Regions from separate parts of the Homo sapiens genome. Here regions 1 and 2 are each linked to region 3. The links come from fine-mapping of genetic effects on gene expression. A gene starts in region 3. Each other region holds a variant in brackets. All regions are shown on one strand. Distances are from middle to middle. Region 1 holds the start of LOC105369435 (a long non-coding RNA gene). Region 2 overlaps PANX1 (pannexin 1). Region 3 holds the start of PANX1 (pannexin 1).

Region 1 (10,705 bases), 70 kb before region 3:
CTTACTCTTTTCATGCATCTATTCTCAGATTTTTTTCTCCAACAGTGTGCTGGAACTTCTCCACTGGTATCGTGCCACCGCACTCCAGCCTGGGTGACAGAGCAAGACTCCATCTCAAAAACAACAAAAACAAAAACTTCTCCACTGGACTCCCAGACTCCCACTATTCATGAGTACTTGTCAAAACTGATGCCTCTGCAAAAGAATAACAGTAGAAAGCTTCTATTCTGTCAACTTGCTGACATCCCAAAGCTGGTTTATTAAGAATGTCATGCTTTGTATATAATATTGATAATAAAAACAATAAATAATTTGTTTTGAGCACCCTCTGGCCTGATAACTTTGTATATGTTATCTTATTTAACGATGACATTGGGAACAATAACATTTGCCATATAGTGTGGATTTTCATAGGCTAGCCTCTGTGCTTTATGTAAATTATTCAATGGCGCTTATCAACAAACTTACATTGTTATCTGCATTTAACAGATGGGGAAATTCAGTACGCTCATATTTAAGTGGCTGACTCAGCATTTGAACCCAAATCTGTCCAGGACAAGGGCCATACTCCTCTATCCACTAGGACACTCTGGCTTCCTCACAGGGAACAAGGTCATGGCCTATGCAGCTTAACCAAGCCCTGAAAACCTCTCCCACCCCAACACACATAGGTGCAGCTGGTACATCCACATGCATTCTGGCCCTGTGACAGTCAGGGCTCCTATTAGCTGATACACAAACAGAGAGAACACAACCCCCCGGGAGTGTTTCATTAGACCTGCATGTGGTCTGTTAATAGATGTTGCTCTAGCATATTCAATGGTACCAATTTGGCCCCTGACTTTTTTTTTTCCACAAAAAACCCTCAGTGGTGTATCATGGAAGCGGATCTGGAAAGCCAGACTGACAAACTTAGGCTGAGAGCTAGTCCTAACTGCTTGTCTTTCTTGGGTTAGGTCAGACCCTCATGATTCTCAAGCACCCTAAGCCACCTAGCAGAGTTCTAAGCAAAAGGTTGCTTCCCTGACCCAGCAAATCCTCAGTTTCTTTGTCTGAAAAACAAGATGATTAGACTAGGGAAGTATTTTTCAAACTTGAAAGGTTTTGTTCATAAAAACAACTTAGACTTAGCATTGACAACCATTTTTTGTTATATAATGCATTTTTCACATCTGTTTGCTTGTCTTTTTTTCCCTTTAGTCTGTTCATGTTGCCGTAATGAAAATACCAGAGACTGGGTGGTTTAAGCAACAAACTTACTTTCTCACAGGTCTGAAAAAGGCTGGGAAGTCCAAAATCAAGGCACCAGGAGGTCCAGAGCTTGGTATCTGTTGGGGGGCCACTTCTTGGCTTGTAGAAAGCACTCTGCTTTCTACCTTACTTGTATCATTTCATTCATTTCTCCTAGCAACCTAAAGGCACAGATATTATTCCAATTTTACAATTGAGGACACAGAAAGTAAAAGACTTAACTAAAGTTAAGCCTAATCAGTGAAATAACTGAGATTTGAACCCAGGTCTAGATTGAGCCTAAAGTACCAATACCCATAATCACTGTGTAGGCTGCTTCTAATGGAATTTTCCACATCACAGGTGCCCTCATCTCCCGTCTCCATTGCTTTTTTTCATCCAGATTTACCACCATTTCCACCTTTGTTTTGGAGCTTCTTGCTGTCCCTTCACAGGGAAGGGAAGATGGAGAGGAGAGAGAGATAAATACATTTTATGCATATCCATATTCCCAGCCTATTGCACAGTCCCTGGCACACAGTGGACATTCAGACAATATTTGATGAATAAATGAACATATGTATAAATGAGTAAAGGAATGGATGGAAGACTGGATGGATGGATGGATGAATGGATGTCTGAAACAATCAGGAGAGTTGCTGAAGATGTGGGAATAACCCATGATGTCGTGGTAGACGACCTCTTATACCACAGGACGAGAAGTGATAAAGAAATGGAATATGAAGACCTTATTCCAAAAAAGCATAGATGTGGCAATGGCATGAAGCCATCAATGAATGTAGTGATATCTCAAACAGACCGCACTTAAAGTTTACTTGTCTAGCCAACACATATTAATAAGCATCCATTATGTATATATGAGTGCATGTTGGCACTGTGCTGGAAGCTCCAGAATCAGAAATGAGTAAGACACAGCTTGTACCCTTAAAAAATTCTTGGTTATGAGGACAGACAAACATATAAACAGAATTTTTACAATACAGTCAGTCTAAAACAGAATGTATCAATCAGTATAGGTCAGTTAATACTACAGTAACAATCGACAACTTTCAGTGTTTTTAATCAACAAACCTTGTCCTAAATGTTCATGGCCTCCACTCATATAATTCTCACTCTAGGGCCCAGGCTGACATAGCAGCTGTTGCTGGTTGCTGTGGCAGAGGGAAAGGAACCCTAGTACACTGTGCCTTAGCTCGTAAGGAGCATGTCACTTTCACTCATGTTTGCTTCATCAAATTCATGTGGCCATATTTAACTCCAAAAGGGCTGGGAAGAATTTAACTCCAAGGGGGCAAAGGGAACACTGGAAGCATCTGGTAATTATTAAACAGATGTATAAATAAACTGCACTGGGAGTACACAAAAGGGCATTACTATGAGTGAGCAGCCAGGGTCCTGTTCAAAGAGGAGCTGCCGTTTGAACTGAGTCATGAAATGCATGCACTCGTCACACTGATGCACAGGGTCTAGGAGGTTAGTCTACAGGGAGGTCAGTCACCTTCATGCTGTCTGGAGGTGCCCCAGGGGTCCCTATCATTGTGCAGTGTACAGTGACAAAACTCCATCTGCAGTATGTGTGGTGGTTTCAGCTTCACTGGAGACATTATGATGATGCTGAAAATTACTAATTTTTTTTTCTTTTTTCTTTTTTTTTAGACAGAGTTTCATTCTTGTTGCCCAGGCTGGAGTGCAATGGCTTGATTTTGGCTCGCTGCAACTTCTGCCTCCCAGGTTCAAGTGATTCTCCTACCTCAGCCTGCTGAGTAGCTGGGATTACAGGTGCCCGCCACCACACTCAGCTAATTTTTTTTGTATTTTTAGTAAAGACAGGGTTTCACCATGTTAGCCAGGCTTGTCTCGAACTCCTGATGTCAGGTGATGCACTCACTTTAGCCTCCCAAAGTGCTGGGATGACAGGTGTGGCCATCACTAAATGAACACTTACCCTGTCCAGGGAGGTTTATTGAGGCAGAATGCTGGGCAGCTCAGTCACAAAGGACCACAAGTTTCGACTATGACATCATGTTCAAACAATTTATAAATAAAATCACAAAGATTTCCTGAGAAGAAGATATTTATCATTCAGACTTTGTGTCTAATTTCTAGACACAGAGTCATGAGGAACCTTGAATTAATATTTTCTAGAATTCCTATAATCTTGCATTGTATTTTTGTACTAAAAAAGTGATAATTCAAAAAAATGTATACATAAAGCTCTTCCTCAATTTATGTAATATTGTTGCTATTCACTTTCTATCTAAGAGCCTTAAAAAATGGGAGGTCTGCATCCCTCTTGGCCTGGGCAAGGCTCCCGTAGGTACCAGGCACTCTGCTTTCTAACTTCCTTGTATCATTTCGTAATTTCTCCAGGCAACCTAAAGGCACAGTATTATCTCAATTAAAACAAATGAGAAAATGAAGGCTGAAAGGCTTAATTAACCTTAAGCCTAATAAGTGGAGGAAGTGAGATTTGAACCCAGGTATAGCTTGATCTAAAAGCCCTGACACTTATAATCACTGTGTAGGCTGCTTCTGATGGAAATTTCCACATTGCAGGGCCACTTACCCTCCTTGTTGCTTTTTTTCACCTGGGTTTACCAACATTCCCACCTTTCTCTTGGAGCTTCTGCTTCCAATTGCTCCTCCTGACCCAGATGGAGGTGGCAAGCTGGGAGAAGCAAGCACAGAGAGTCAGCATTTTGTCAAGCATAAAGTCAGGAAGGAATCCCACTGTTGTACTAGAATCTGATGGTTTCCATAGCAACAGAATCAATCAATCAGTTAATCAACAATAAATTGTTGAGCATCATCCATAAACTCAGTTCAGTGTTGCAACTTGAAGGGCAAGGAAGAGGGAAGAGGGTGGGAGCAGAATTATGAAGATGAAGGAGGCACGGGGCGAGCTGTGGGTGTGGGCGTGGGTATGGCTAGTTTCCTGCACCAAATCTGTGCAGAGAGGCCAGAAGTTGGCTGTGATTCAGAAAGGCAGATGGATATCATTCTGAGCTGCTGCTCAAAACTCTAAACCCCAGAGCCACTGTTGGTTGATCCACTGTGTTCAGGTACTTTTACAGAAACCCTGGCAGCTCCTGAATGTCAATAGAGGAGGAATTAGGGGCAGCCATATAGTTGCTTGAGTGTGGGCTAAAGGTTGTGTTGTGAAACTGCATTTATTTAGAAAGCATACTGACTTTTACTTAAATTTAAATTTCAGATGGCCGGGAAGTAGGCGGGTCTAATCAGGAGGAATTAAACTACCCCCTCCCTGTTCTTGACCAAAGTATTTATTAAAGACCTCTTAAGCACATGTCACTTTGCCTTTTCAATGTGGATTTTAAAAGCAGAACAAAGACTGAGGATAATTAAACATACTCTAAGGAATGGTGAATACATTCATAACAAATATAAATTGTAAAAATTGAAATCTACCAGCATTACTACGATGCAGCTCTGATGGCATCTCCAGTTCCTTCTCACTAGGCAATGGGTAAAGTTCTCAGCAGGGAAGGCTAGGACCTGGTCTTCTGTTGCTCTCACTGGCCCACAGCAGTTCTTGGTGGCCCTGTCACTTCCTTTGTTCACAGATGTCATGCCAGTCATGGAGTTAGCTCTCTCCCTGTTAGTTTTAAGGGAGAGAGCTTTTGCCAACTGTATTTCCAGAGCGCTGCCTACTTCTGCTGCCTGCTGCTGTGCAGATCCCTGTTTAAAGACTGGAAATGAGGAGGCAGGAGAGCCAATTCTCAAGCCCCAACACACATAAGAATCACCTTCAGAGCTTGTGAAGAATTCATATTTTGGGGCCTCACTGTCAAGATTTACTGAGTCGGAGGAGGGGTCAGGAATCACTCTCCAAACACCTCACAAGATTCTGAAGCCTGC[A/G]GGACCACCTCTGGGAAACACTAGTGTGCATGGTGGTTGGGAGAATGAATTCTAGTCAGGGAGGTCTGTATTTTCACCTCTCATATCTTGTCCTCTCAATTGTAAAATGGGGAAAAGAGCACCTTCCCTTGGGAGGCCAAGTGCCACCCCAGGCCCTGCAGCTAGTAAGTGGCAGAATAAGGCTTGTACTTGCTGGCCCTAAAGTTGCATTTAACCTCGATGTCAGAGTGGGTCTAAAAGCTGTGATATGACTCCTCCCCAGGTCTCCAGCCACCGCAGGCCAAGTGGGGTGTCATGTCCATGAGGATGATAAAGAACATATGAGTAGTGCTCACCACAGAGGATGTACTCAGAAAATGTGTGATGAATAGATGATCAGACAATAATTACAGCGGCATCATTTGTGGAGTCCCTTCTCTGGACTGGACCCTCCACTAGTGCTTCTGAGTCCTGCCCTGGAAGTGGGCCCCACTATTTGTCTATATAGTGACCACTCATGTGACAGCTACCAGCTCTCCCCCTCCCTACCTCAGGACAAATTAGGGGATATGACGCCCTTCATCTAGCTTCTTTCCCCCTCTACTCTACCTCCGTACCCTGTCTCAGAACTCATCTTCCTCATCTATAAAGTGGGGATAATTGACCCTCTTTTTCCTGCTATTGGACTACAAAATGAGACGACGTCAGTGCTATGGACCAAATGTATGTGTCTCACCAAAATTTATATTTTGAAGCTGTAATCCCCAATGTGATAGTGTCTAGAGGTGGAACCTTTGGGGGGTAATTAGATCATGAGGGTAGAGCCCTCATGAATGGGATGAGTGTCTTTTAAGGAGCAGCCAGGGAGTGAGCTAGCTTTCCCTCAGTCACGTGAGGATACTGTGAGAAGGCATCCCTCCACAAACCAGGAAGTGAGCTCTCACCAACAACCAAATCAGCCAGCACTTTGATCTTAGACTTCCCAGACTTCATACTGTGAGGAATACATTTCTGTTAAGTCACCCAGTCTGTGGTGTTCATGTTCTAGCAGCCCAAACTCACTTAGACAACCAACATAAAGTGCCCCCTCCACCATAAAGGATGTTTCTGACCCCTCTGGCTCCCTTCCAACTAAGGATGTGTATTAGTCCGTTTTCACGCTGCTGATACATACCCAAGACTGGGAAGAAAAGGAGGTTTAATTTTACTTACAGTCCATCATAGCTGGGAGGTCTCACAATCATGGCAGAGGGCAAAAGGCAGTTCTTACATGGCAGTGGCAAGAGACGATAAGGAAGAAGCAAAAGCGAAAACCCCTGATAAACCCACCAGTTCTCGTGAGACTTACTCACTATCACGAGAATAGCACAGGAAAGACCAGCCCCCATGATTCAATTATCTCTGCTGGGTCCCTCTCACAACACCTGGGAATTCTGGGAGATACAATTCAAGTTGAGATTTGGGTAGGGACACAGCCAAACCCTATCAGAGGGCCAACCACATTGGCAGCACTCAGCCCCAGTTCAGGGTGGGCTACACTCATGGGGGTGGGGTGCACAGGGCCATCAGGGATGCCCAGCCCTTGAGTCAGGGTGGGAAGCCAAGATAGTCCAGTGGGCCACAGCTGGTGCTGCCTTGTTGCTTCTGTGAATGTACGTGCCCTCTCAGAACACTGTCTTTTCTTGGAACTGGTGAAAGGAGCTAGAAATGTGTGCAGGGCACCAGGCCTCTAGCATGGCCTATAGTGGGGGTGTCCTCAGGGACCTTCATTGTTCCTTTGGTTCCCAAAAACGCCACTAGATCTTCCTAATAAACAGGTGTTGACAGATTCTGATCCTTCTGGAACAACTTCCCCTTCTCCTAGCTGTCTTCTGCTGGGTCCCCCTGGTTCAGTGCACAGGCAGGCAGTACAGCACAGGGCAGGGATTCTCAGATGTTGGTATGTTTCAGAGTCACCAGGAAGGTGTGATAAATGCACATCCCCAGGCCCTGCCCCAGAGGTCCTGACTCAGTGGGTCTGTGGAGAGGCCCAGGAATCTGCCTTTTTAACAAGCATGTCCACATATTCTGATGCAAGCAGTCCTCTGGTCACAGTTAGCACTGACATGACTCGGGTTTTCGAGTCAGGCTGGCCCAGGATTAGATCCTGGCCGTGTGGTTTGGGCAGGTCATGGAGCTCCCAGGCTTCTGTTTACTCTTCTGGGGAGGGTGCCAACCTACTCATTATTACATAGTAAGGGGTAAACTAGTTCATTTAGACTGTGTGCTTTAGCAAAGCACCTACCACAGCAGGTGCTTTGTGAAGGAAACTTTTCCTAGGGCCAGGAGACTTCCCGCCTGCCCCCTAAGCCTGTGCACCACCACCTGAGTGCATGTCTCTTCTGATGACATGATGGGGAGTTATCTGAGGGCAGGTTGGTTGTCGGCTTGTTCTGGGGGCTGCAGGAAGAAAGAGGGGACCCCAGGGTGGAGGTGAGCTAAGAAGAGAGAACTTGTGAGGTGGAGGTTGCAGTGAGTCGAGATCACGCCACTGCACTTTGGCCTGGACGACAAGAGCGAAACTCCATCTCAAAAATAAAAAAATAAAAAAATAAAACATGAAAATACGGTAAAAAATTACTGAGAGTTCTACTGTAAGGCCAACAACAGATTCTAATAAAATAACCAGAACTAATATTAGGCTTCACCTGTGCCAGGCATTGTAGTTGCTGACATCTGTTCCCTCTTTTAACCCTCACAAGAGTCTTCTGGAGTAAGTGATATTATCATTATTTCTTGGTTGAATATTGTGTTGTTAGAAGATCAAGGAAGTTCTTTAAGTTGTGCAGCAAAACTGCATCTGCTGGCCTTCAGAGCCTCTTTAAATCCAGTTGAAAAAGAATTCCTCAAACTAGTGGCACTTGACCAAAATGTTACATGTTGATAGAAAAATATGCTTAAATATGTGTCAGAAAATTATGATGCTCTTTCCCTTCTGAAACAATTCAGTCCTAAAATCATTAAACAGGTGACCAAGGCAGCTTGGTGCAAAGTATAAGACCTCAAGACGAGCAAGGAGGTGGACACTCTGGTGATAACCGTGACTCTGCTGGGCAGTCCAGACTGGGCTTATGAAAGGCAGCAATGCATGGAGGACCCTCACTCCATAGACAGTCAAGCATTGCATAGTGATAACATTTCGGTTGAGGACAGACTGCACATACAACATACCTTATTTTTAAGGTATTACTGCACCTTTTCTACGTTTAGAGTTGATAGATACACACATACTTAATGCTGTGTTACAGAATTCAGTACAGTAACATGCCGTACAGGTATGTAGCCCAGGAGCAATAGGCTGCATCATATGGTTATACGATCTAGGTTATAGTAGCTAGGTTTGGGTAAGTTCTCCACGATGTTCACATGACAGAATCACATAAAGAAGCATTTCTCAGACTGTATCTACATTGTTAAGTGATGCATGACTATATTTCTATATTATCCGATTTTCTTTTGCAATAAATGTATACTCATCAATAGCTTGCATCATCTTTGAAAATTAAAACTAAAACTAATAAATGACAAAAGAGAAAGGAGTAGAAAATGAGAGGAGCCAGTGGCCTGTTTTGGGATTCACCTTCTGCCACCCCAGCCAGGCAGGGCAGGATGAGCTGGCAGCCCTGGCCCGGGGAGAGGAGCGCTGAAGCAGGCAGAGTGTGTGTCTCCGGCAGTGCCCACGCGGGTTTGCACAATGGCCCTGGGGGCTGGGGTTCCCTGGGTAGCTTCTCCAGCCTCCGCTCCAAATGCTCGGGAGGTTCACACCCACAAGGTCCATCTGGCTGTTGCCCGTGCTGAGTCAAAGATGTTCTTGAGTCATTCCAAAAATGCCCACGGCACCTTCACAACTCTGCCATCTTTGCTGCCACTCACACAGGGCCCAGTGACAAAACCTGGGGGTTGAGGGTAGGGTGTCTCGCTGCTCTTGGATGAGGTCGAGTTTTTCTGTCTTAGCAATAGCCTTTCCAGTATCCTTTCCCAGCTGAATTCGCCTCCATTGGGTTCTGAGCAGCAGCTCGAAATGATGTCCTTTTCACTTAACTATTGTAAATGGGTTTCTATTTGAGGTAAGATAAATAGCTATTGTTGAGCTCCTGTAGAGTGCCAGGTACATCATTCTCATTGAATCCTCACAACAACCCTGAGGAGTAGACACTGGTACAGGGAAAACATTTTAAGTGACTCACTGGGTCACCTCTTGGAAGTATTAGAGCTAAGACTCCAAACCAGATTTTCTGATATCAAAACTCAAATTGGGCTTTCTCAATATGCTAAATCGCCTGTCTGTAATGCTCCAATAGTTTGGGATTTTCTCGTTTTTCAAACATGGCTTACGATGTGAATAAAGAAAATGCTGCTAGACTTAAAAAAGACTGAGGGATTGAGTGTTTATTATGTGCCGGCATTACGTTTACTGCCTTTGTTTAATCGACTTCAGCCCTCGTCAAAATCCATGACTTTCTGTCATACAGGAGGGAACTAAGGCCCAGAGGAGTCAAGAACTCAGGTCACGCAGGTCAGCGGGCAGCCTCAGGCCAGAACTCAGGCAGCTTGTCTTGAGAACCCATTCCCTTAATGTCCCTCACCCCAAAACTAAAGGAACATCCTCACTGGATTGTGAAGATTTAATGAGCTAATATGCACTGTTTAATGCCTGGCATGTAGGCACTCAACAAATACTAATTTCCTTCCTTCTTTCCATCTGGATTCCCAGGGATCTAGTGTGGGACACGATGAAAGAAGACATAGACCACAGAGACACAGACCAATAGATTCTAGAGGTTGTTTAGTCCAAGCCCCTCACTGGGCAAATGGCTCAGAGAGGCGAAATTATAGATGGAAACAAAGCTTTAGGCTTTCTTGGTCTTCCTTTTCCTTTTTGCCACCATAATTCCCAGCAAACTCCATGACCCCAGAGGCTTGCTGGATTTTTCACCTTAATATGCCCAATACCAGATAGCAGGTGTTTGAAAAACCCTTTGTTGAATGAATGAATACCAACTTCACTCTGCAACTGAGTCTGAAGTCATGAAGGCTATTTCCTCATGAGTTTCCTATCTAGGGAAAAGCCCACCAACCCTTGGTTCCCTGCCCCAACCTGATCAATGCTCAGGGATGACTCACTGGCTTGAATACGAGCCCAGCTTCTCAGTTGATGTGCTGCACAAAGGCCATCCTTGGGCCAAGTGGGAGATGAATCACCTGGCACAGATTGCAGGCTTGGAGGAAGGCACAGGATAGTGAAGGGAGCACTAGGCTGGGAGAAAATAGGGTATGAATTTTTCTCCACTTAGGCAGTGGGAGTCTATGACTTAGAAAGCTCATCTGATGGGAAAACTTTTGGAGGGACTCTACCATGTGCTCTTATTACATTGCTTTCTCCACTTCACAGGTTAAAGAATGAGCACCTGTAGTTTGCTCTCAGAGGGGTGAAACACTACATCACCCACACACTGACTTTCAGCTTCCATCCATCTCCCCTCAGCTTGCTGTGTGCTCAGCATGTTGCTAGACTGAGGTTGGGGTGGGGAGGTTGACAGATTATTTGCTCCTACTG
Region 2 (10,705 bases), 39 kb before region 3:
AGGAGCTCCCTTTCAATACAGTTTGTGATCATCTGGGAGAGCTTGAGTATTCCAGATTAAGGGTCCATAGGGTTTTCTTGTAAAGGGCCAGAGAGTAAATATTACAGGTTTGAGAGCTACATGGTCTCTGTTGCAGCTGCTCAACTCTGCCATTATAGTGCAAAAGCAGCCACAGATAATGTGTGAACAAATGGGGCACAGTTGTGTTCCAATAAAATTTTATTTACAAAAACAGGTATGGACTGATTTGGCTCAAGCATGTGTGTCCTAGTCTGCCAACCCTGGCTCTGGATTCTTGCTTCTCAAAGAGTGGTGTGGTCCATAGACCACAAACCTCAGTTATCACCTGGCAGTCTGTTATAAATGCAGAATTGCAGGTCCCTATCAGACCTGCTGAATCAGAGCCTAAAGTTCAACAAAATCCCCAGGTGATCTGCATGCACAGAGAATTTGAGAAATGGTGTAGATGGGTGGTGCCCACATTGTACGGCAAGATGGGCTCACATCAGAATCTCCTGGGAAGCCGATAAAAACCACATTCCTGACCTTAACCACAGAAGCTCCAACCTAATGGCCTAGATGGCCTCGGGAGCCTGAATTTTCACAAGGCCACTCTGGCAATGCTAAGGTTTGGAAGCCTCTGGTCTGAAAGCCTCAGAGGATTCCTCCAACCAAGTTTCTATGAGTCTACTTAAGAGAAATAAAGATTTGCCCACTCTCCTAATTTTGTTCTTGTTTTTCTTATTGTTTTTTTCAGTCAAAAACGGACTTTCCTGTTTCAGAGAGAAATCTTACTAATAGTTGCCTCCCGCATTCTAAACTTGAACAAAGGGAACAGAACACTCAAAGGAAAAAAAAAAGCCAGTTCTCAAGCAGTGTTAGAGCGCCACCTACTGGGTGCCCCCCACCCCCCGAGACTGTACCCACATCTCCAGCAAAGGCCTCACAGTGTGTCCTTAGAGGTCATCAGTAGTGCATGGAGTGGGAGAGAAAGGGAGGAGGAAGACAGGGAGAAATCAAAGTCGGTTGGAGAAAAATGACACCATTGATCATACCAGTGTCATACCAGTGCTGACTTAAATATTACACTGAATAACTTCTTTGGGGTAACTGAGCTCTCCTAACTTCAGCATCAGAATTAAATTGAGAAGTGCTGAATAAACCCTGTGCCTCTAATCCCCCATCCTTTGTCAGGATGCTCCTGGAGAACCAAGTCTGGTTCTGAACAGGACACACAACTACCTCACTGCCCTCTTCCCTTCCGCATATAGTCTTCAAGCACCCACTATGGACTACGCATTGTCTCAGGGGTACATGGATAAACAAGACATGGTCATGGTCTCTGCCTGCATAAAGCTTACAGTCTTAAGAGATAAAGAATTAATAAAGCAGAATTATGGCAAGATATTTTCATGTCAAGCTTCCATTTTATTTGAAAGTGCTTGGGGAAGGCCTTGGAGGGCAGGAGGCAGAGACAGGGAGTGGGATGCCTGAAGTTAGTTTCAAGTGACAGCAAGTTCAGAATGAGGTGGCCACAGGAACTCATGATGGAGATGGAAATGGAAAGGAGGTAAAAGTTCTTGCAGATGAGACAGAGACTGAGGCTAGATGTGCCATCCAGGAGGACACAGAAGTCACCTTGGGGTGGTGAAGGAGGATGAGCATGACTGAGTCCTGAATGAATGAGGGGTGACTGGGAGAATGACAGCAATGAGGAGGGCATGGGGAAGGCATAGCCAGTATCCAGAACAGCTAAGGAACTGAGTTTTCTATGAAGAAACAGTAGCAAGGTAAGAAATACAGGCATGGGAAGAAATTACGCAAGTCCATGAGCACGCTGAACTAAGGAACTCCTGGGTCAACAGTGGGCTCCCCTGCTGGACAGCAATTGTGCCAGAAAGACTCTCCTTGTGTTGAACTGCAGCTCATCAGCAGGTGACCATCACCTACAGGCTACAGTCCAGAATTCTCAAGCCACAGAAGTTAGAACTGGACCTTCTCACATGGGAAACATGTCTGAAATCTGAAGAAGGATGTGGGCTCACCTGCCATCTGGCTGTGCGACCTCAGAAAAGGCACTGATCACTCTGGCCCTCGGAGCCTGAATGAGAGGACCCTAACAGCTTAACAGTCCCGAGTCTGCTCAGTGTGGAGAAGCCACAAGAAAACCTTTTCATCTTTGAAAGAGAATCCAGCAATTCCACTTTGGGGTATGTATCCAAAAGAAACAAAGTGAGGACTCGAACAGATGTTCACAGCAGCAATATTCACAATAGCCAATAAGGGCAAGCAACCCAAGTATGCGCTGATGAACGGATAAACAAAATCTCGTACAAATTTACAATGGGATGTTATTCAGTCTTAAAAAGGAAGGAGATTCTGATGTATGTCACCACATTAATGAACTGTGAAAACATTTTCTTCAGTGAGATAAGCCAGACACAAAAGGACAAATATTGTATGGTTTCACTTATATGAGGTATCTAGAATAGACAAATGCAGAGAGACAGAAAACAGAATGGAGGTTGCCAGGGGCTGGGGGGATGGGGAAATGGAAAATTACTGCTTAATGGATGCAGGTCTCAGTTTGGGAAGATGAAAAATTCAGGAGATGGGTAATGGCGATGGTTTCGCAACAATGTAAATGTACTTAATGCCACTGGGCTATATACCTACAAAGAGAAAGGTAAATTTTATGTTATGTATATTTTATCAAAAAAGAAAAAGAAAAACTTGAAAAAGAGATCAACGTAGAAATAAAGCAGCTGCGATTACTGAATCTGGCCTAAGAAAGCCATGCACTAATATTCCTATCTGGTATAGGTTTTATTTCTCCAATTAGGCTGAATCTTCATTTCTCTCTAACTCCTGGCATTACCAACCAAATCCCACAAATTTGATGGCTTAAAACCACAGAAATTTTTTCTTTCATGGTTTTAGAGGTGAGGAGTTCAAAATCAAGGTGCTAGCAGGGCCATGCTCCCTCCCGAGTCTCCATGGCAGGATCCTCCCAGCGTCTTCCAGCTTCCAGTCGCCCCAGCATTCCTTGGCTTGGCTGCATAACTCCAATCCAGCCCCCTGTGGGCATGCGGCTGTTTTCTCCCTGAGTGTCTTCATGTTGTCTTCCCTCTGAGCATGTCTGTGTCCAAATTCCCCTCTTCTTATGAGGATAGCAGTCATACTGAGTTAAAGGCCCACCCTACTGCAGTAAGACCCCATCTTAACTAATTACATCTGCTATAATTATATTTCCAAATAAGGTGTCACAGTTTAGGGCACACTGGGTTAAAACTTCGACATATCTTTTGGGGGACACAATTCAGCCCATGATACCACCCAAATGTAGAGTTAGCCTAAGTCTCAGTCCTCACCTTACTCGCACTCTTGGCAGCATCTGACACAGGTTATCACATTGACACCATCTTTCTTTACAAGATACCCTGCCTTTCAAGCATACAGCACACTGTTTAACTTTCCTCATCACCCCACCTCTCTGTGTCTCCTCTGTTGACTGGTCCTACCCCACCCTCTCTCCATGTTGGAGCAGCCCTCAGACCTTGCCCCTGTCTACATATAATCACCCCCTAAGAAACACCATCCACTCCTATAGCTTTAAACACTATCTATTTTCTGACAATCTGCCATATCTATAGCTCTATTCTAGCCTGCAATCTCCAGATACCATATCTCACTGCCCACCTGACACATCATCTGGACCACAGCACCTGATTCAACATGTTCAAGCAGAACTCTTTGATTTTCCTCCAAAATCTGCTTCTTCACCAGGCTTCTTCAAGTGTCATGAAGGTGTCATTCCATCCGGTGCCTGAAACCTTGGTCATGTCCTTAATCCTGATCTTTCTCTCATCTTCCCATGTCCAATCAGCACATCTTGTTACTTCCGTATCTTAGAAAAGATGCCCTGAGTCTTAGAAAAGATGCACTTCCCACCTCCACTGCTGTCACCCTAGATCTCAACTGCTGTCACTCTAGACCAAGGATCAGCAAACTGCTGCCCCTGAGCCAAATCTGGCCACAAGCAATCATGTCTACTCTGCAGAACTAAGTAGCTGCGACAGTGACCATGTGATCTGCAATGACAAAAAAACTTTATGATCTGGCCCTCTGCAGAAGTTTGCTGACCCTGGTCTAGGCCCTTGATGTCACTTTCGACTATCCTTTTGCGTGATCTTCTAATCAGCAATAAGACATAAGAGTATTGCTTTTTGTTTGCTCTTTGCCTTCTTGGACAAAACTGCTTCTTTTCCTTTCTGTTCCCTAATTAGAACCCTCACTCTGTGCTTACCAAGTGGCTCTCCCTGCCTCTATTCTCTCCTGTACACCATTACTGAGGCTTAACTCTTGGAACCGCCAAGTTCACCCTGCTCAGGTA[C/T]CTGCAATGGCTCCCGCTGTCCCCAGCATTTAGCCCATCCATCTGGTTAGTTTTCAAAGTCCCCTGTAACCTAGCCTACCCTGCATCATAGTTAATCAAGGCCCCAATGCCCCCAACAGGCCACGCCTCCCCCAGAAAGTGCTTCCCACCCTCCCAGACAGTGCTTTTTTTGTGCTTTTGGGCCTGTATTTTCCTTCCAGTTGTCACCCAGCTTGTTCCTCTCTCTTCTGGTTATCAGGAAGAGAGAGTTTATGAAAAGGGAAAAAAAATTGTGAAGAAATTGTCTAATCATCTTCATTTCCTTACCTCCCATTCACTCTTCACCACAGCCATCTGCCTCCCACTTCTCCACTAAAATCATTCCTGCTGGATCCCCAATATTTTCATTAAATCCAGTAAGTTGTATTTCTCCCAGACTGCACTGGCTTCTCTGCAGCAGCATTTAACAGAGTTCACTACTGTCTGAAACACTCTCCTTTTACCATTTAGCTGATTATTCCCTCTCACTGCCTTCTTCCATGTTTATTTTTTCCACTAAACAACAAGCTCCTTGATGAAGGGACCATGTCATCTGTGGCTTTCTGCCACTGCACATACATTCCAGCATATGGTAGGCCCTCAATCAACGTTAGCTGAAATCAACTGTGACTAAATGTTTTCAGCTCAAGAATTTCTATTTGATTATTTTGGTGCAGTTTTCAGTCAGTTCTACGTAAAAAATCTCCATATAATCATAATTCTTTGAATATATGATTAATGATTAGTTAAAATGCATGGTTGATCAATCCACTATCTGGATCTCCAACAGGTTTGTTTCTATTTCTGATTTTTCTCTTGGTTTTCTTGTACATCTAGTTATTTCCTAGTGAGTGCTGAATATCATATGTGAAAAACCTGAGCAAGAATTTGACAGTACATAAGAGGAGGCAGAGCAAAATGGCTGAATTGAACCCTCCAATGATTGACCCCCATTAGGAGATAGACAATATAAAAAGATATAAAGTATCCATGCAAGAAAGCACCCTCCTAAGAACTAAAAAATCAGAGGAGCAATCACTGTACCTGGTTTTAACATAACAACGAAAGTGGCATTGAAGAGAGTAGGAAGTACGGTCTTGCACTGCTTACACCACCCCTCCCCTAAACCCAGGCAGTGCAGTCTGGAGAAGAATCCGTGTGCTTGAAGGAGGGAGAGCAAAATGAGTATGCGACTTTGCACTGGAACTCAGTGCTGCCTTGTCAAAGCCTCACACAACACCAGGCAGACTTCTGCCAGGTCCCACAAAAGAAGCATTTAGACCAGCCCTGGGCCAGAGGGGAATCTTCTGCCCCAGTGGGAGAAAAGTGACTCCTGCTGGCTTCACCACCAACTGACTAAAGTGACTTAGGGCCCCAAATAAATCTGAGTGCCAATCAGGACATAGTAACTGTAGGCCTTGGACAAGCCCTGGTGCTGCACTGGTCTTAGAAGCAGTGGGCTTGGGATGTGACCCAGTACGACATTAACTGTACCAGCCATGGGAACACCTGCATCACCTCTCTCCCAACTCCAAGCAGTGCAGCTTGGGGAGAGATCTTTCAACTTGGGCAAAGGAGAGGAAAGAGTACAGAGGATACTGTCTTGCAACTTAGATATCAGGCTCAGTCACAATAAAATAAAGCACCAGATAGATGCCTGATATAATATGCAGGTATGAGAAGGTTAAAGGACACAAAGAAGACTCAACCCAAGCAAGACTACCTCAAGGAATACAATAATCCAACTTTCAAAGGTGAAGGACAAAGAAAGGATCCCAAAAACACCAGGTGAAAAGATGCAAATTACATATAAAAGAGTTCCAAGATATCTGGCAGCAGACTTTTCAGTGGAAACCTTACAGTCCAGGAGGGAGTGGGATGACATATTCAAAGCACTAAAGGAAAAAAGCTTCCAACCTAGAATATCATCACCAGCAAAGTTATCCTTCAAACATAAAGGTGAAATAAAGACTTTCCCAGACAAACAAAAGCTGAGGTATTTCATCAACACTAGAACTGTCTTACGAGACATGGTAAAAGGAGTTCTTCAGTCTGAAAGAAAAGGATGGTAAGGAGCAACAAGAAATCATCTAAAAATACAGACTCACTGGTAAAAGTAAGTACACAGACAAATACAGAATACTCTAACACTGTAATTGTGGTATGTAAACCACTCATACCTTAAAATGAAGACCCTAAGGTAAACGTATCAAAAATAATCATAATTACAAGTTGTTAGGAGATACACAATATAAAAAGATATAAAGTGACAAGAAGTCGAAAGCGAGGGGGGGATGAAGTTAAAGTCCAGAACTTTTTAGTTTTCTTTTGGCTTGTTTTTTTATTTTCATTGTAATTGGAATTAAGTTATCTTCAGTTTAAAATAATTGGTTAATAACATAACCAATAATAATAATAATAGTTATTACTATTATATTACTTGAAACAGAGTTTCACTCTTGTTGCCCAGGCTGGAGTGCAATGGTGCGATCTCAGCTCACTGCAACCTCTGCCTCTTGGTAAGTTCAAGTGATTCTTCTGCCTCAGCCTCCCGAGTAGCTGGGATTACAGGCATGCACCACCATGCCTGGCTAATTTTGTATGTGTAGAAGGGACAGGGTTTCTCCATGTTGGGCAGGCTGGTCTTGAATTCCTGACCTCATGTGATCTGCCTGCCTTGGCCTCCCAAAATGCTGGGATTACAGGCATGAGCCACTGTGCCCGGCCACATAACCAATTATTTTAAACGGAAGATAACTTAATTCCAATCACAGCCTCATGTGCAGCCTCATGGCAAACAAAGTAAAAGCCTATAATAGATACACAAAAAATAAAAAGCTGAGAATTTTTAATTGGAGCATTTAGCCCATTTACATTTAAAGTTAATATTGTTATGTGTGAATTTGATCCTGTCATTATGATGTTAGCTGGTTATTTTGCTCATTAGTAACAAACCTGCACGTTGTGCACATGTACCCTAAAACTTAAAGTATAATAATAATAAAATTAAAAAATTAAAAAAAATAAATAAAAATAAAAAGCAAGAAATTAAAACATACTACCAAAAAAATCATTTATACACAAAGGAAGACAGAGAAAAAGGAAAAAAAGAGAAACTAACAAAACAACCAGAAAACAAATAACAAAATTGCAGTAGTAAGTCCTTACCTATCAATAATCACATTGAATGTAAATGAACTAAATTCTTCAATCAAGAGAAAGAATGGCTCACTGGATAAAAAACCAAGACCCAACCAAACGCTGCTGACCAGAAACTCACTTCACCTATAAGACACATATAGGCTGAAAATGAAGGGCTGAAAAATATATTCCATGCAAACAGAAACCAAAAAAGAGCGGGAATAGCTATACATGTATCAGATAAAATAAATCTCAATACAGAAACTGTAAAAAGATAAAAAGTAAGTCATTATATAATGATAACGGGATCAATTCACTAAGAGGGTGTAACAATTGTAAATATATAAGCACCCAATGCTGGAGCACTCAGATATATAAAGAAAATATTATTAGAGCTAAAGAGGGATAAAGCCCAATATAATAATAGTCGGGAACTTCACGCCCGACTTTCAGTATTGAGCAGATCATCTAGACAAAAAATAAAGAAATATCAGGCTCAAGCTACACTGTAGGCCAAATATACCTAACAGACATTTACAGAACATTTCATGCAATAGCTGCAGAACATTCTGCTCTTTAGCAAATGGAACATTCTCACAGATAGACCACATGTTAGGCCACAAAACAAGTCTCGAAAAATTCAAAATAATTGAAATCATAAAAGTATCTTTTCTGACCACAAGGTCAGAAATCAATGACAAGAGAAACTTTGGAAACTAAACACATGGAAATTAATATGCTCCTGAATGACCACTGGGTCAATGAAGAGATTAAGAATAAAGTTTAAAAATTTCTTGAAACAAATGAAAATGAGAACACAACATACCAAAACCTACTGGATATAGCAAAAGCAGTACTAACAGGGATGTTTAAAGCAATAAATACCTACATCAAAAAAGTAGAAAGACTTCAAATAAACAGCTTAATGACAGATCTTAAAGAACTAGAAAAGCAAGAGCAAATCAAACACAAATTCAGTAGACTATTAAAGAGCAGAAATAAAATTGAAACCAAAAAAATACAAAACATCAATAAAATTTAAAAGTTGGTTTTTTGAAAAGACAAAATCAACAAACCTTTAGCCAGACTAAAAAAAAAAGAAAGACCAAATAAATAAAATTAGAGACAAAAAAGGAGACATTATCATTCATACCACAGAAATTCAAAGGATCACTAAAGACTATTATGAGCAACGATATGCCAATAAATTGCAAAACCTAAAAAAAATTGATAAATTTCTAGACACATACAACCTACCAAGATTGGACCATGAAGAAATACAAAACCTGAATAGACCAATAGCAAGTAACAAGGGAGAGGCAGTAATAATAAGTCTCCCATCAAAGAAAAGCCCAGGACCTGATGGCTTCACTGCTAAATTCTACCAAACTTTTAAAAAAGAACTAACACCAACCCTACTTAAAGTATTCAAAAAAACTGAGGAGGGAATAATTCCAAACCATCCTTAGAGGAGGGAATAATTTTATAAAGCCAGTCTTAACCATGACACCAAAATCAGACAAAGACAAGTAAAATTATAAGCCAATACCTCCGATGAACACAGATATAAAAATCCTCAATAAAATCCTAGCAAACTGATTCAATAACACATTAAAAAGATCATTCATCACAACCAAGTGGGATTTATCTTAGGGATGCAAGGATAGTTCAACATATGCAAATCAATAAATTTGATACATCACATCAACAGAATGAAGGACAAAAAGCATATGATCATTTCCATAGATGCCAAAAAAGCATTCAGTAACAGTCAACATCCCTTCATGATAAAAACCCTGAACAAACTGAGTACAGAAGGAACATACCTCAATATAATAAAGAAGACTTACAACAAACCCACAGCTAGTGTCACAAAGAATGGGGAAAAACTGAAAGCCTTTCCTCTAAGATATGGAACAAGGATGCCCACTTCTAACACTTTCATTCCCTGATTTGCTCATTATACATTCTATGCTTATATCAAAATATCACATGTAGTCCACAAATATGTACAAATATTATGTAACCATAAAACTTAAAAATTAAAATAAAAAGTAAGAAAAATAAGCCAGGTGTGGTGGCTCACGCCTGTAATCCCAACACTCTGGAAGGCCAAGATAAGTGGATCTCTTGAACTCGGGAGTTTGAGACCATTTCTACAAAAAATAACAAAAATTAGCCACATGCAGTGGTGCATGCCTGTAGTCCCAGCTACTTGGTGGGCTGTGGCAGGAGGACTGCCTTACACCCAGGAGATTGAGGCTGCAGTGAGCCATGTTTGTGCCACTACACTCAGGCCTGGGTGACAAAGTGAGACCCTGTCTCAAAAAAAAAAAAAAAAAAGAGAGGTTGGTGGAGCCAAGATGGCCGAATAGGAACAGCTCCAGTCTAGAGCTCCCAGTGTGAGCGACGCAGAAGACAGGTAATTTCTGCATTTCCAACTGAGGAACCGGATTCATCTCACTGGGGAGTGTCAGAAAGTGGGGGCAGGACAGTGGGTGCCGCGCACCCAGCGTGAGCCGAAGCAGGGCGAGGCATCACCTCACCCGGGAAGCGCAAGGGGTCAGGAAATTCCCTTTCCTAGTCAAAGAAAGGGGTGAAAGATGGCACCTGGAAAATCAGGTCACTCCCACCCTAATACTGCGCTTATCCAACGGTATTAGCAAATGGCACACCAGAAGATTATATCCAGCGCCTGGCTCGGAGGGTCCTACGCCCACGGAGCCTCGCTCATTGCTAGCACAGCAGTCGAGATCAAACTGCAAGGTGGCAGCGAGGCTGGGGGAGGGGCGTCCACCATTGCTGAGGCTTGAGTAGGTAAACAAAGTGGCCAGGAAACTCGAAATGGGTGGAGCCCACCACAGCTCAAGGAGGCCTGCCTGCCTCTGTAGACTCCACCTCTGGGGACAGGGAATAGCAAAACAAAAGGCAGCAGAAACCTCTGCAGACTTAAATGTCCCTGTCTGACAGCTTTGAAGAGAGTAGTGGTTCTCCCAGTACGCAGCTGGAGGTCTGAGAATGGACAGACTGCCTCCTCAAGTGGGTCCCTGACCCCCGAGCAGCCTAACTGGGAGGCACCCCCCAGTAGGGGCAGACTGACACCTCACACAACCAGGTACTCCTCTGAGACAAAACTTCCAGAGGAACGATCAG
Region 3 (10,705 bases):
GTACACCATTCTGCACTCTGAACACAGATTCTTCCTCATCACAAAAATAACATAAAAAAGAATCTGAGGCACACGCAATATAACCTGAGCTTATAAATCAAGTGGGACAACTTACCTATCATGACGATGTGCATCCTTTACTGCTATCATCAGAGGCAGGTGTCTGGGAGGTGGCCAGGACAGGCCTGACCCAGGACAGCACTTGTATCATTAAATGGCACTCAGAGGGCGCACTTCCAAGCAACTGGGACCCTTATCCAGAACACTCCGTCCATTCCCTCAGCACAGCCACTCTGGGAGAGTTCCCTAGTGTGCTCTGGCACTTCCTTCACTAAATTCCTATGGAGCACTTGTTGAGGGCAAGACATGGTAGAAGACAAGAGGAAGGAAAAATGAGGGCTGGTGAAACCACTGATTCTCCCTTCTCTGGCTCCCACCACACAGCCTTTCTAGCCCAAACTCACAATTAAACTGTCTTTTGCTGTGTGTCACTTATTTTCCCCCTACCCAGCTGAATCTCAGAGGAGGCACACCTGCAGTATTTTAGAAAGGCTGACTAGAAGTATCAGGCCTAACCAGACAGGTGCACATTTTAGTTCTTACATTCAATCCTTAGTATCTCACTGTCCAAAAGCCTTCAAAATGCTCCCAGGCACAACTCAGAAGAGTCTCCTTGCCACTCCCTCAGGAGGGTTTCTGCTTGTAATTCTCACTATCACAGGGCACATCTGGACCAATGAGTGGCTGCCGCAAAGACTACCAAAGTTGCCTCCACCTTGACCATGGCACCAGCCTTGCCATGCCCCTCCAGACCACATCACTTCTGCAGTGACCCTCAACCTGTGATTGTGGGCAGCCAGACCAAGATCTGGTGAATGAGCAAGGCAGAGTCCCTTCTGCTCTCTGTCCCCAACACAGTCCCCACCAGCCCAGGTAGCCCCACACCAGTGCCTACCATGCAGGACCTGCGTGAACTGCTGTGGGAGGGAAGGGGCCAGAACCTCTGAGGAGTGGACGCTTCACCTGCAGCCACCATGCTGGCACCCAGCAGGGCTTGATAAAGATCAGCCTGCTGCTATGCCCATGGGTCTCTGTGGCCCAGGCAGGCTCAGTCCCTCTTTTCTGAGAGGAGCCCAGTGGGCTGAACTACTAAGAGAAAAGGCCAAAGACCAAACGGAAGCCTTTAATATGAAGCCAAGTATTTTATCATATGAGGACATTCCCTCTCTCTAACCTACAACACTCCCACCCCCACAGAGAACCTGCTCTTAAATCTAAAGCACAATCCATGCACATTTCTTGATTTAATAGATTTTCTTTAAAGTAAAAAATCATTTATTTAAAGGAAAAATCGCCACAAAGTTTCAACTTGAACCCTATTTTATCAAACAACAGTTGACAGAAAATTTAATTTTTGGAAAGTAACTGGAAAATATAATTTATTTTACGCTTGAGGGGATTTTATATCAAAAGAGATGAATTCTTATATATACTAGTTTATCATACAGGTGGAAAAAGGAAAAACATGTAATTACAGCTGATTTTCTCGTTTCTAATTTTATACACACACACACCACCCCCCCAACACAAACAGGAAAACAATGGGATTTGCTATGCCTTCTTTCATGTGGAGCCCCTGGACCCTTACTTTGGCTCCCACCTCTCCATGTGACGGTGCCACTAAAGCTCCAGCAGCCACATGTTGTCTCACACGTCTCAGCTTCAGCCAACACTGCTCCACACACTTGGAATCCTGCCTCAGGGGCCAACTCTGCCCTGAAACTCTCACTGTTCATGAGTCAGAAGAAACCCCTCCTTCTGCCTTTCCACAGCATCAGGCTTTAGTACACACTTCTGACACTGCCCAGGTTCCATGAATCCTGCATTAGGAGGGTTATGCGTTCAACTTCTCTACTAGACCGTGCTTCCAGAGGAAAGATTCTTATGTCCTACGTGTGTCTGACACCCCATTGCCAAGGTACAGCATCATGCACATAACAATCAATTAGCAAGGTCTGATGATGCCAAAAGCTATCACCTTTAATTCACAACAAATGTTTATAGAGTAGTTTCAATCTCCATGCAAAACATGCATAGACAGGTTATAAAGCTCTGTGTTAAGTTCAACAAAAGAGTATTCCAAGCACCAGAGAGGGAAGCAGTAATTATCAACAGAGGAAGGATGAAGCCATGTTTTAAGTCTGCAGGCCTTATCTCAGTGTCTTCCCGGGGCCTGAGTTCACTGGCCAATATGGTGGGCAAAGTGCCAGCTCCATTTCAATTACTTCATTCTCCCTTTATTGCTGTTCTTTTTTTTGGTTTGTTTTTGGCTGAGTGCATACTACTAACTACACAAAATTAAATGCTGCATGACATGATCCCTCCCACTGTACCAACTCCATGTATTAATCTATGTACCTCTCCCCTCTTCTCAAAAGCCCTTCTTCTGGTTTTATCTAAATGTATACCTAATCTAATAGGTCTTCCCTGGTCCTGTTAGCTTCATCCCACATGTCTGTCCTCCCCTGGAACTCCTGAAAACACTTCAGAAAACATGGGAGTCTGCTTGACAGCTCCTCACCCAAGTGCCTGCCAACCTTCACCAGCCTGGAGCTCATAGCTCAACACCTGGCTGGGTGCTGAATTACACACAGCTGAATGACTTACCTGCTAACAGATACCTTCTAGTGCCCAACTGCATAGTAAACTGCCACAGGGCAGGGAGAGGGCAGGGCAAGAACAAGGTCTCAAAATCCTTTCCCATCTCCCTCAGCACACAACAGTGCTATGCACACAGCATGAGCTCAAACTCTTGCTAGTTAAAACCACTCCCAATACCCCAAAAATACCTCTCAGACAGCCCACCAATTTAGACGTATCTAAGGCATTACAGGTACAGGTGCCTTAGGAGTCCCTCTAGTACATGTGCTAGAGGTGGAGATTGGTCACAGAGGGTGACTAACTCCTTCCTCCTGCCTTTCTGTCCCAACCAGGTACCCAAGACTTGCACCTCCAAGACAGGGATCATGCCTCTTTTACTCCCGGGTCCTTGGAGGTCAGCACCGAGTTCAGCACACAGCCAGTACTGAAGGAGGAATTGACCAAAGGGAGAGATTATCTCCAGGACTCATGCTACTTGGTGGTTTTGCTTTCAGCTGGAAGCCTCAATCCACTGTCAAATGGAAACTTAAAGAACATCCCGATGACTATGCCTGCGCAAAGAGCAGGAAAACTAAAAACTATTTTCCACAATGAATTTGGCAACTTCCTGCCAAGCTGAACAACTTAGTGCTGCAGATTGCAAAATCACACTCATAGTCATTCTTTCCTAATCAACTATTCCCTCAACTTCACAATTCCCATCACCACCAACACCACACTCCACTCACCCAGACATACAACCTCCGCAGCACGTTTGACCAGTACTGCCGTTCATGGCCTATTAAATACTAGGTACTCAAGTGCTGCTTATTTACTCCTTGATCGCACAGCAATCACCCACCCATTTTCTTCCACTCTTCACACCCTCTGTGCACAAGACCTCAGCCGATGCCTTGCTCTCTGGCACCCAGCCCTCCAGGCCCCATCCTCTCACCTTCTTCCCAGACCCTAAATGCCACCATCATTCAACCAGTCTGTCCTCTGCTCAAACAATAACTTCACAGTTCTGAAACCATCAGCCTACACTCTTCTGTTCCAGGCTGACCCAGGCCCATATTCACTCTCAGACTCCAGGAACTCTGACTTATCCTCCTGCCTTGGCTAGGAGAGTCACTGTGTCTCTCTTTCCAGGAACATATAACATTCTCTGCCATCTCAAAACCTTAACAAAGGTCTTACTCCTTCTTGTCCAAATCCCACCCACCCTCTGACAAAAGTTTTCCCAAAGTCCAGCCGCACTGGGTCCTCTCTCTTCCCCTGCCACAGAACTGTATTTAACCCTCCTGCGCTACCTTCCTGTTGGTTCATAAACACTCTCTCCTGTGTGGAGAGTCAGAACAGCTGATGAGGAAGGTAAGGCACGTAGCCACGTGATCCTGCCCAAACCACCAGACTTTCCAATCTCACACAACTGTTATGAAGCTCAAATGATAATTTACAGGAAGGGGACTTGTTCATCTCACATTTGTAAGACCGTCCAAGTTGAGGATCCCTCTAATGCCTGCCAAGTGCAGATATTTCCTATCATTCACAACCCTAGAGAGCTAAGATCTCAGCAAATACCAATTATATGTAAGACACTGAAAGAACACACTTCTCATGGAGCACCGGTCTTCACATCCTCCATGTAGCCACTCAGGAACTTCTCTGGTGTAAAATTTTAGGCGGCTGGACAAATATGTAGGAGACAGGGGTGAAAAACGGGGACACAGCTATTCTTGGCAAATCTGGTGGCAAGGTGCCAGTTCTAAGGGTGGAACATAAACTATAAGCCACAGTCCGATCAGAGGGGCATGAGGAACAAAAGAACTGAGGAGTAGGGATGCGAGCAGAGTAGACCAGGGTACCAATGAAACACCTGGGCAAAGAACGCTTTGGACCATAAAACTGGGGCCACTGCCCTTCCTGACGCTCACGACCATCACAGCTGGGCGTACCCAGACTCGGGCCTGTGAGCCGTAAAATCGCAGCTCACCGGGCCAGACCGGGGCGGCCACTCCCCTCCGTCCTGGGCGAGGCTTACCAATCGAGATCTCCTGCGCGAAGGCCAGCGAGATGAGCAGCAGGGGCAGCCCCACCGCAATGCACGTGACCATCTTGTCCACAGCCAGCTCCAGTCGCAGCCCCTTGAACTTGGGCTCCGTGGGCTCCTTCAGCAAGAAATCCGAGAACACGTACTCCGTGGCCAGTTGAGCGATGGCCATGGCTGCGGCGCGCCAGGCTCGACCAGGAGGTCCGGGTACAGCCGGCGTCGGGAAAGCTGCGCGGCGCCTTCACCCAGTCACCGGCCGGGCGCGCGGCTTTCGCTTTCCCTTTGCCTGCTCCCGCATCCCGCCTGCCTTTGTGTCTCGGTGCCTCAGGCTCCCAGCGACTCCGCTGGGCTCTCGCGCTCGCTGCCTCCGCCGCCGGCGGGGCGGGGCGGGGCGGGAACCCGAGAGCTCCGCTTCCTGCGGTTCCACCCCGCACGCCCGTGCAAGTCCCCGGGCCGCGCGCGGCACTCGGATTCGCGCCTCTCCCGCGCACCCCCAGGCGCGGGAACCACGCGCGGAACAAAGCGCTTCCCTCTGGCCCTGCCCCTCCGCGCCGCCCTGGCTGCCGAAGCGGCCGCCGGGATAGCCCTGCGCTCACAGCCAGCTGCGCCGCGCTCTTCCGGAACCATGCGGGGAAACCAAGTACCCAGGGGCGTGGAGCTTCCGGAAGACGCGGTGACGCGGGGCGGGGTGGGCGCGGCTGCATTCCGCGCCCCTCGGGCCACTCTCTGACAAAGGGATTTTCCCACTGAGCGGCACCTTTGGAAATTCTCCCGTCCCTCCCTGCCGGATTCTCCTCACGTCCTGGCACCCGGGAGTTTTAAAATCATTTCTGCAAGCGACTCTTTCTGTGGATGGGATGGCCCCCTTTACGCCCCACCCCCAACATTTCCAACACGGTGAAATCGGGTTAGAAGGAGCTGCAAAAGCTTCAAAGAACAGTCAGTGCCATAAAAGGCCAATCGAGCGGTGTAGACCGACGGTGCCTTGCAGAGGGAGCGCTGGACCCTTCCAGGAGCTCCGCGTGAGAGGGTGGCGCGGAAACGGTAGTGAGTGTGGAGTTTCGAGGCCTGAGTAGCGCTGCTGGTCCCGTTTCTCTTTCCTCTGCCATCCCAATCAGAGCCTTGTTCCGGGAGCCAGCAGAGAGAGGGGGGCCTGCAGGTAGGTGGGTGTTGGGGCTGCAGAGAGCTGCTTCTGAACAGCTCATAGGAAGTGGATGATGGAAAGACAGGAGGAAATACTCTGACCAGTGTCCACGGAAATTAAGGCTGTTGAAGTAGAAATAATTTGATTTATTGGAAGCTAAATGTGAGGATCCACCCAAGAAGACTTACCAGCAAAGTTGGGCATGTTTCAAAATTTGTTACACGTTGGAAGGGTTTTAGAAGAAAGTTTAGGAAAAGGGAGGAGGACCCCTTATATCAGAGGTGGGATTTTTTTCATCGGAGGGTATGGTACACAGGTTACAGTCACTGGCTGCAGATGACAACATACAGGCTAAAATGTTTTGTGCACAAGAAAATCAAAGTTTATATGATTCAGAAACAAGTCAGTGTTCTTTTCAATGTCAGTATTTTACATACTAATCAGTACATCAGCAGTTTGAGGAACTGACAAAAGGATTTGAAGGACTCACAGTAAGATTTTTTACTCAGGGACAGGATCTAAGCCATGAATCATAAGACCTTTCTTAGATGGCTTAGTTTGGAAGCCCTGTCAAATGTGACATGTAGGTTATCACCAGTAACATTTGAAGCAGGCAGGACCTGCAAACATGAGGGCTCCTTGGGGCAGGGCTTGGCTCCCTTCTCTGTGGGTCCACAGATACAAGCCTCAACTCCCACATGTACCTCTCCACCCCAGCCTGGCCGCTAAACACACATCCAAGAGCGTATACAGCTCTCTCCGCGTAGATGGCTCATAGGGCTTCAAACTCATAACGGCCAGGACTTCAGTCTTCATCTTCCCCTTAAACCTGAACTCCATCTTCCCCATCTTACTAAATGTACCACCAGCCACCTGTGCACCCAAGTCGGAATCCTGGAGCACCATCTTCAACACTCCATTTCTCACAGCTGCCATAACCAATTTTCAAATTCTCTTGCTTCTCTCTCCTAAATATAGCAAATCTGACACCCCTCCACCTGCACTGCCAATACCCAATTCAACTCACCATCCTGTCTCCTAACCACATATAGGAAATATGTGAGACAGGGTCCCCCTCCATTCTCCTCTACAGCTGCCAGGATGAGCTTTTCAAAACTCCAGTCGGATCATCTTTTCTACTTAAAGTGTACATTGTTTTTAGCATAAAATACAAATTTCTTAGCATGGCCTCTGCCTACCTCACCACCAGCTTCACTGCTTTCCTTTCAGTTCTTCAAGTTAGCTAAGCCCTTGGCCTCCTCCAGGCCTTCCCACCCAAAACACTCCCCACAGTGGCCTCTTTGCCTGGCCCACCTTTATTCACCCTTCTGGCCTCAGCTTGATGTCACTTCCCTGGGAAAGCCTTCCCTAAGTAGACAGACTAGATTAGGTCCCTTTGTGAAATTCTCCCATAATACTAGCCACACTAGTTACTAGCTATTAGTCTTGGGGAGTTCTTTGACTCTCCTGTGTCTCAGTTTTCTCATCTGTAAAAAGGTTGTACCTCTTAGGACTGTGATAAGGACCAAATGAGTTAACACGTGGGTAGTGCCCAGTGCCTGGCACCTTGTGAATCTAGGTACATTTCATCTGTCATTGTTCTCTATTTTTCCTTCTTAAAAATAGTCACCATTGCAACTCAACAAATATTTATTCATTTATTTAGTGTTTGCCACCACTTTATGTGATCGGCTTCTTGAGGGTAGGCCCATGCCCATGTGTACCACTTTTATCCTCAACACTTAGCACAAATGCCTCACACAGAGTTGATGTTTTAATTCATATTATTAAATAAATGTCTGAAGGAATCTGAACACTTTTTAAAACTGGCCCAGTTCACACTCATTTATCCATACATTCCAGGCATATATTAGAGGCTGGTGATGGGCCAGTTCTGGGCTCAGTGGATGGGGAAGCAGAAATGAAGTGAATGGATTCCATTTCCTCAAAGACCTTATGGCTTAGCAAGAGAAATAAGGCATGCACACAATTAACTATAATGCAAGGTAGAAAGAGTGATTATTGTGAAAAGTGGGGTATACCAAGGGAGGTGCAGAGAATAAGTAGGGCCTGGGAGAATGTGTCAGTTGGGACATTCAGAGCTGGGACAGGGGCTTTCTGGGAGTCAGGAAATCATGGGTGCCATTTCCCTTCTTTCCTTGCCAAAAGCTAATCATCCGATAGGCTCAAATGGCCCCTTTTTAGGCTCAAATGCCCCCTTTTTAGGAAGCCTTCCAGGATCCTCCAGTTGTAATGAATCCTTCCCTCCCTTGTTACTCTCTCCTCTGGCCTAGAAGTTAGTTCATTTTGCCTCCTGTGATGGGATGATGGATTGTGTATCTCTTTTTTCATTACATAGCAAGTTCCTCTGAGGATCTGGAGTGAATCTCAGCAGTTGCATAAATTGCCCTCAGTTTTGGCAATTTTTTACATTCCATATGATGTTATCCTACTTTTAATGAATTTAAAATAGAAGCCAGATGGAGAACTTGTTGGAAAATAGTGTGTCCGGAATTGATTCCTTCTGGTGGGTTCTTGGTCTCACTGACTTCAAGAATGAAGCCACGGGCCCTCGTGTTGAGTGTTACTGTTCTTAAAGGTAGTGTGGACCCAAAGAGTGAGCAGCAGCAAGATTTATTGTGAAGAACAAAAGAACAAAGCTTCCACAGCATGGAAGGGAAGCTGAGCAGCTTGCCGCTCTGGTGGCCAGCTTGTATTCACTTATTTGGCCCCGCCCACATCTTGCTGATTGGTCCATTTTACAGAGCGCTGATTGGTCCATTTCACAGAGTGATAATTGGTGCATTTACAAAACTTTAGCTACACACAGAGCACCGATTGGTGCATTTTTACAGAGTGCTGATTGGTGCATTTACAAACCTTTAGGTAGACACAGAGCGCTGGTTGCTGTGTTTTTACAGAGTACTGATTGGTGCGTTTACAAACCTTTAGCTAGACACAGAGCACTGATTGGTGTGTTTACAATCCTCTAGCTAGACAGAAAATTTCTCCAAGTCCCCATCTGACCCAGAAGCCCAGCTGGCTTCACCTCTCAATCCCCCCTCTAAACAGGACACCCCAACTGCTGTTGGGAATTGGGTGATGACTGCTCTAGCTACTTCCTGCTGGATAGGAGCAAAGAAGGGGCCCTGCAGTTGTAGTATCCTCCAGAGGGGAACTCTTTAGGCCAGTGAAAGGACCAGCGGGTCGGTCCAGGGGTCCTCGGTAGAAGTTGTTAGTTGAGCTCATTTGGGGTTCCATTGGTAAGACCATCTGTAGCTTGATGGCCTCGATCCTAGAGGAAACAAATTTAACAAGGAGTTTAAAAATACAGGGCCCGAAGGCAAGTAATAGTAAGATGGCTGCCATGGGACCTAGAAAGGGGAGAAGCCATGTTGCCCAACTCCAGAGGTTGGTATAAGAGTTTGAAAGGCATTGTCTGATTTTGGAAGCCTTTTCCTGTAAACGCCAGGTGGCATATCATACTATCCCTGAATGGTTAGTGTGAAAACAACACTCTTCCCCTAAGAAGGTGCACAGTCCTCCTTTCTCAGCAGTGAGGAGGTCTAGGCCTCGGCCGTTTTGGAGAGTCGCTGCTGCCAAAGAGTCTATTTGGGATTGTAGAATAAGGATAGATTTCGTTATCTCTTGCAAACTGTCTGAGAAATCCTTTGAGAGTGTGTGGTAGTAGGATAATGAAGTAGATAAACTGACTATTCCGGTTCCTGTAGCAGTAGCCATTCCTAACCCCATAAGTAGGGGTATTAGTTGTATGGCTCTGCACTAACAGACTTGAGCTTTGAGGGGTACTGATAGGGTCTGATTTCCTGGGGAAATGTTAATGTCGGGACTTAGAAATACTAAGGTGCAGGTGCCTTCCAGTTAGTGGGGTGGCAGATATAGTTCAACATTCCACATAAGAAGAATATACCTTGGCTGGGTAGACAGAACTGGTTGTGTATGTTATAAAGGTGTGTGAGTTTATTGTTTTCATTTTCCTATACTCCTAGAATACTTGCCAAGATAGCTGCTATGAGTGGCTGGAAAGGGGTGTTGGGAGCAAACTGAGTGGCTCCCTGTGTTCTATTTTCCCATTGGAGAAAAAACCATTTTGTATCTACTAGGAACCATTCGAGAGAGCGATTGAAAGAGGGGATGAGATGGCATTCACTAGTGGTGGGGATACTGCTGCAGGGGGTCCAGGGGTGAATGGTCATGCAGAGAGTATGTTTGCCATTACAAAACCTGGACTGTTTGTTAAGCAGGGAGGAGGTGATGATTTTGGGGGCCCCTGAGACGTGGACAAGCCGTCTGAATGGAGCTGTTTGAGTGACTTGGAAGTTACTATGATCAGTTGGGGCTTGAAGTTGTATGGTGTAATTACACTGATGTGGTAGTAGGTGCCCCAGGAGCAGACCTGATAACAGGTTGCATTGGATGCATAAAGGGGCTTGGAAAGTTAAGATGGTATTTGTAGTTACAGGGCTGTGTATGGGCTTTTCATTGCTTGTGTAATAGGTGAGGTTGGAAATGTAAGAACGCAAAAGTTGTATCGCATGTCCTGTTAGGGTATTCTTGGTCCTATCAGAGATGGGGAAGTTGGCTAATGATTGCATATTTAGAAGTCGGAAAGGGTCTTTTCCTTCAAAACGAGGGTGGTATGTTAAGTTGGTAAAGACCCAGTTTTTTGCAGGAATGGGAGGTTCTGCCTGGCAGCAATTTTGGCCTTAGCATCTGCCCGACGGTTTCCTTCTGCCTCTTCTCCCTCATCTTTCTGATGGCTTTGGCAGTGTAAGACTGCCACTTCCTTGGGGTTTTGCACTGCGTGTAATAACTCCATAATTTCCTGGTGGTATTTAATGGGGGTT

The links. PIP is the estimated chance that this variant, and not a neighbour inherited with it, causes the effect.
Region 1: its variant is the best candidate, but not a certain one, in a credible set for the expression of PANX1 in whole blood (GTEx, PIP 0.57).
Region 2: its variant is the best candidate, but not a certain one, in a credible set for the expression of PANX1 in esophagus mucosa (GTEx, PIP 0.81).

The regions. Positions count from the first base shown.
Region 1 is chr11:94,193,104-94,203,808 of GRCh38, reverse strand. It overlaps LOC105369435 (a long non-coding RNA gene), which reads right to left and starts at 6,400. Exons shown (of 5, transcript XR_947901.3): 1 at 3,818-6,400; 2 at 1,261-1,412. The variant A/G (reference allele first, on the strand shown) is at 5,131.
Region 2 is chr11:94,162,062-94,172,766 of GRCh38, reverse strand. The region is part of intron 2 of PANX1 (pannexin 1); the gene reads right to left. Among named protein-coding and RNA genes, the nearest start is that of PANX1, 39 kb to the right of the region's middle. The variant C/T (reference allele first, on the strand shown) is at 4,394.
Region 3 is chr11:94,123,473-94,134,177 of GRCh38, reverse strand. It overlaps PANX1 (pannexin 1), which reads right to left and starts at 5,337. Exons shown (of 5, transcript NM_015368.4): 1 at 4,685-5,337. The coding sequence starts at 4,865. RefSeq lists enhancers at 446-945, 4,765-5,024, 5,345-5,404 and a silencer at 5,045-5,114.